2 separate regions of the Homo sapiens genome follow, and region 2 is linked to region 1. Evidence: fine-mapped expression QTL. A gene starts in region 1. The other region holds a variant in brackets. All regions are shown on one strand. Distances are from middle to middle.

Evidence for each region. PIP is the estimated chance that this variant, and not a neighbour inherited with it, causes the effect.
Region 2: its variant is fine-mapped to the expression of RTN4RL1-AS1 in liver (GTEx, PIP above 0.99).

What each region holds. Positions count from the first base shown.
Region 1 is chr17:2,016,601-2,019,100 of GRCh38, reverse strand. RTN4RL1-AS1 (RTN4RL1 antisense RNA 1) reads right to left here and starts at 1,385. Exons shown (of 2, transcript NR_135642.1): 1 at 994-1,385. All of the region lies in intron 1 of RTN4RL1 (reticulon 4 receptor like 1), which reads left to right. The region is part of intron 1 of LOC105371486 (a long non-coding RNA gene); the gene reads left to right. RefSeq lists an enhancer at 679-788.
Region 2 is chr17:1,994,500-1,996,999 of GRCh38, reverse strand. The region is part of intron 1 of RTN4RL1 (reticulon 4 receptor like 1); the gene reads left to right. Among named protein-coding and RNA genes, the nearest start is that of RTN4RL1-AS1, 22 kb to the left of the region's middle. The variant G/T (reference allele first, on the strand shown) is at 1,494.

The DNA.
Region 1 (2,500 bases):
ACCATCAGCTCCAAGGCTAGGGCTGCAGGAGCAGAGGGGCCTCCAGGGATGTCGAGGAACTGGAGAGAGGAGCCCGCTGACTTGGTGTCCATCACTAGAATGAGTCCCAGCCACCTCGGGCTTCACAGAGCATGCCCAGCCAAGCCTGCTGGGAGGAGACATGGATGCTAGCTGGAAACAGGCAGCAGGCAATAACCTGCTCTTCCCCACCTGCCCGTCACTGTCCACATGCTGCCAATAGCCGCTTGTGTTTACTGAGCACTTGTTACAGCCTCACTGAGTGTGCTCCACGCCTTATCTCATGCCACCTCCACCCCCACCCTGCAGGATCCGTCTGTGCTCATTCCTCCGTGTCAGATGAGGAAACTGAGGCATAGCTAGCTGGAGTCCCTTTCCCTGGGCCACCCAGCCGGCGCACTGCTGAGTCAGGATGCAGCCCCCGCTCTGTCTGTCAAGCCCACCGTCTCCCTTGCCCTCTGGACCTCTGTGCTCCACTGTCTCACGTGCCCATCTGTCTTGATTTCTCTGACATTTGTTTTGTGGGGCGCTGGGCGCTGCTGATTCATTTCTGGCTTCTCGCAGAGCTTGCTGGTGGTTCCTATGCACTCCCCTCTGCGGTTCCTCAGGAGCCTCTCTGGCTGGGATCTGGGACTCCTGGGGCCTGAGCTGCTGTCTCATATGTCCTCTCCTACTCCCTCTCCCCCGGTGTCTGGAAGACACAGTCCTCACCTCTGTCTCCTGCCCTGGTTTCTTCCTTGGGGACAGAGATGGGACAGTGGGCCAGGAACCCTCCTGCCTGCTTTCACGCCCCTGAGGAGGGCCCAGGGCCATGGATTATTGGGGGGCTGTGCTCTGCTTGGGATCTCAGCCCTCCCCATGGTTTGCTCTCCCTGGCTTCCCTCCAGGGTGACCTGATGGACTTGCTAGCACAGCCCCGGAACACACTGGCTCCACCACCTATACCTGCCCCTCTTGCCTTGTAGTGCTCCCTACCTCCTGGGGGGCCTTCCCGCAGCCCAGCCCTAGCCTGCCAGGCAGGATGGCAGCTGCAGGGCTCAGCTGTCCTCCAGAAAGGGCTTCTCCTGTCCCCTTCCAGCCACGGTTGAGTCCCAGAGAGGTCAGTTCTCCCCGTGATTCTTTAGGAAAAGAAAGAAGATGAAACAAGGCAGAGAGTCTAGCTGATCTTAGGGTGCAGGAGCGTGGAATCCCGCTTCAGAGTGGAGGCCTCCTCCGCTGTGGTGAGGCTCGTGCTTCCGAACCTGTGATCACTGTCTAACCAGTCAGCGAAGCGTGGAAACGAAACTGCAAACAGCCCCTGCTATCTGATTCAGGAGAGTCGCTCTGGAGACCTCTGTGCTGGCACAGCAAAAGAGTTGGTACCATAGTGTGTGTGCGTGTGTGTGTGTGTGTGTGTGTGTATGTACAGAAACACACCTGGCAAAGCATGCAACAGGCTCCCTGTAGTGTGTGTGGCAGAGGTCACTGTTGCAGAGCAGGACACCCTAGTGCACCAGAGCCTCTGCTGGCACCCACACCATTGGTCCACTGGCAGGGCTCGGTGCCGTGGCACGATGGTGAGCCAGTCAGTGGGGGCAGGGGCTCCCAGGAGTGGGCAGGCCAGCGCTGTGTGTGCCACATGTCAGGAACAACACTTGCTGAGTGGGTGTGTGGCTCGCCCTCACAGGGGGTGGGTGGGCACGACTCGTGACATGTCTGCCAGGGGACAGACCACTGCAGCCCCCAGCGATGGGCCACTTGGCAGCTCACTGAGTTGATTCCAGAGGGTAGTGGCATCATGGTGACAACTACGTGAGCAAGGGTCTTTCCCAAATCAGGACAAAAGCTGGGCTCCCAACTTTCAGCCCACTGAGGTGGTAGAAAGTTTGCTTCTGCCTCCAAAATCATCCCCACAGGATTTGCTATCTCTTTCTGGGCACCAGGACCAGCACGCAGTGAAGGGGGCCTTTACATATGCTTATGTTGAGAGATTCATGAGGCCCTGGGGGGAAATTGGCATTCTTCTGACCATGATTTATTTATACGGCGATAGGATGATGGGGATATGGAGGCTAAGGTGACTCCATGAGTGAGAAGCGCACAAGGCAAGAAGCCTTGCTCTGCATTTGACATTTAGTGGGGTGACTCCTACCAGGGAGCTGCTTTTCCTTTTAGAAGGTTTTGCCTTTAATGTTCTATTCATGGGCTTGTCTGAGCAAGCTGGGAGAAGGAAGGAGCACGTGTGGAGGTGGGCCTGGGGTCTACAGCTGGCCAGCCTCAGGGGAGGCAGGGCCGAGGGAGGTCACTTGATGGCCAGTGAGGGGCACCTGGGCAGGCCGGACGCTGGGGACAATGGCTATGCTCTGGCGCTGCAGCCCGGCCTCCCGCCTGCCCGCCTGCTGCCGCCTGTCGCTGGCATGTGCCGCATGCCACACGCTGCGTCTCTCTGTCTCTCATCACACGCTGCCAGACTCCGTCTCTCACCGCAGCCCTGTATGCAACC
Region 2 (2,500 bases), 22 kb after region 1:
GTACACAAGGGTGGCTGGTCCCCTGCCTGGCTTGGGTTATGACTGAAGTGGCCATTTACACATCTGCAGCTGGCAGGGCCCCCAGCAACCAGGAATAGCCTGCTCCTGGGTTCTTTGTGCACAGAGTCCCAGCTGGCCTGGGCAGAGGCTGGGGTGGCCCCCGTCCTGTCTCCGAGACCCAGACTCCACAGTGGGCAGCCCAGGAAGGTTTTTTTTAGGAGCATTAGAAAATGTTGACATGTTTTTTGAAACAATTTCAGATCTGATATCTCCGCCAGATTGAGTTTGTAACCAGCTTTATTGTTTAAGCCTGCTGGGATTTCATCAAAGGCGTCTGCTGTTTACCCAGAACCATTTCATTGGAGAAAACAGCAAACAGACCTGCATTTCTATCTGATTTCACTTTTTCCCTTTTCTCATGAATTTAAGAGCTTGTGAAAAGCAAGGCTGATAAGGCAAGGCAGCGAGGATCACATCCGGAAGAGGGGGGTCACAAGGATCTCAGCTGAGGTTTATTAATAGAGCAGAAAAAAGTTGGGGGTAGCTGGCCGCTTCTCAGGGGGAGGGCAGCAGCCAGCCCTCTGCAGGGGGACCTTGGGCCGGGGGGGAGGGGAGGTGGGGAGAGCTGCTGTTCACCCGTACTCTGCCCAAGATTTTTAGGTCATCTCCTGGTGTCTGTTGTCTTTACCAGTTTCTGGACTATTTCAGACACTGGCAGTGATAAAAGACTGAACATCAGCTCTCACCTGGAAAGCAGCAGTGACCTGGCCTCAGAGATGGGTTCAATGAGACAGATTCAAGCTTTCCTGGGAGAAAGCCGAGTAAGGAAACACATCAAAAGGCACATGGAAGGCAGATGATGAGAGTACCGGGAAAATTGCCTTCCTGCTCCTCCCCTGCCAACACTTGGGATTCAGTCCCTTCTCCTGCCAGGCAGCCTGAGCCAGGGCAGGGCAGGGCCCAGGGATGCTTGTCACAGGCTCAGCACGCCCTCACCTCGCCAAGGAACCTACACCAGTGTTATCGCCACCCGCCTAACAGCATCCAGGTGCCTCTAAGCGGGCCTGTTGACCCAGCAAATATGAGCCCAACAGGGGAGACGCTGGCTCTGCAGCCTCTCAGGAGAAGGCGGTCTGAGAAATTTGGGTTAATATGCCTTGTTCCGTGCTTGAGCGACAGCTAGTTAAGTGCATGGGTTGCTCGGCACATAGGCCATCTCTCACCAGTTGCACATTAGACCCACTTATAAAGTCAATCGATTCGAACCAATTAGCAAGAAGATAAGGACTTGTTTACCTTTGATGGTAGATCTTGCAGCGAGCCATCTGAGGGGGATGATAATGATCCAGGGGTATTTCTTCAGCACGCAGTGCCAGGCAGAACCATGTTGTTCTACGCCTTCTGGCAGGTGGGACTTCCGGCGACAGTGAGAGTCAGCTCCCTCATCTGGGGTATGAGCCTGTAAGGACGAGGAGAGTGAGCAAAGGACAAAG[G/T]TCTTTCCAGAGCCAAGCTTAGGCCCTCCTGGCTGTAGAGGTTCCCCTGCCATGCCTATCTTTTTTTTTTTTTTTTTTTTGAGACAGAGTTTCACTCTTGTCACCCAGGCTGTAGTGCAATGGCGCAATCTCGGCTCACTGCAACCTCCGCCTCCCGAGTTTAAGTGATTTTCCTGCCTCAGCTTCCCGAGTAGCTGGGGTTACAGGCACCTACCACCATGCCCGGCTAATTTTTGTATTTTTAGTAGAGACGGTGTTTCACCATGTTGGCCAGGCCGGTCTCAAACTCCTGTCCTCAGGTGATCCACCCGCCTTGGCCTCCCTTGGCCTCCCAAAGTGCTGGGATTACAGGTGTGAGCCCCTGCACTCGGCCCCATGCCTACCTTTTGCAGTGAGAGCTCAGTGGGCTGCTGGGGCCTGAGAGGCTCATTCCATCACTGTGGGCTCTGAGCATGGTCCCAGGGCCCCTGTAAGCACAGGGGAACCACATGCTCCAGACACAGGGCCTTGGGAGTATTTCTGGCCATCTGTTGACAGCCTCTGTCATCTCATTTCATGATTTTTTTTTTTTTTTAGAGATGGGGTCTTACTATGTTGGCCAGGTTGGTCTTGAACTCCTGGCTTCAAGCAGTCCTCCCACCTCGGCTTCCCAAAGTACTGGGATTATATGCAGGTATGAGCCACTGCACCTGGCCGTCATTTAATCTTTATAAGCCTCCTTTTTAACCACCTTTCCCCCAACGCAAGCGTGTATTATCCCCTTTCCTAGAGAAGGAAACTGAGGCTTGGAGGTGGGAGGCAGCAGAGCCTGCTTGTGTTGACCGAGGTCACCGGGCCTGTCAGTGGCGGAGCTGGGATTGGAATCCAGGCCTGGCTGACTCCAGCATCTTCACTCAGACTCATTGTCCTCTGCCTTCTGTGAAGTTAGGTAGTGGCAGGACCTTCTCCCAAATTGTGGGTTTGATAAGCTCGCAAGCTGGTGGGAAGGGGATGGAGCAGGCCCCTTG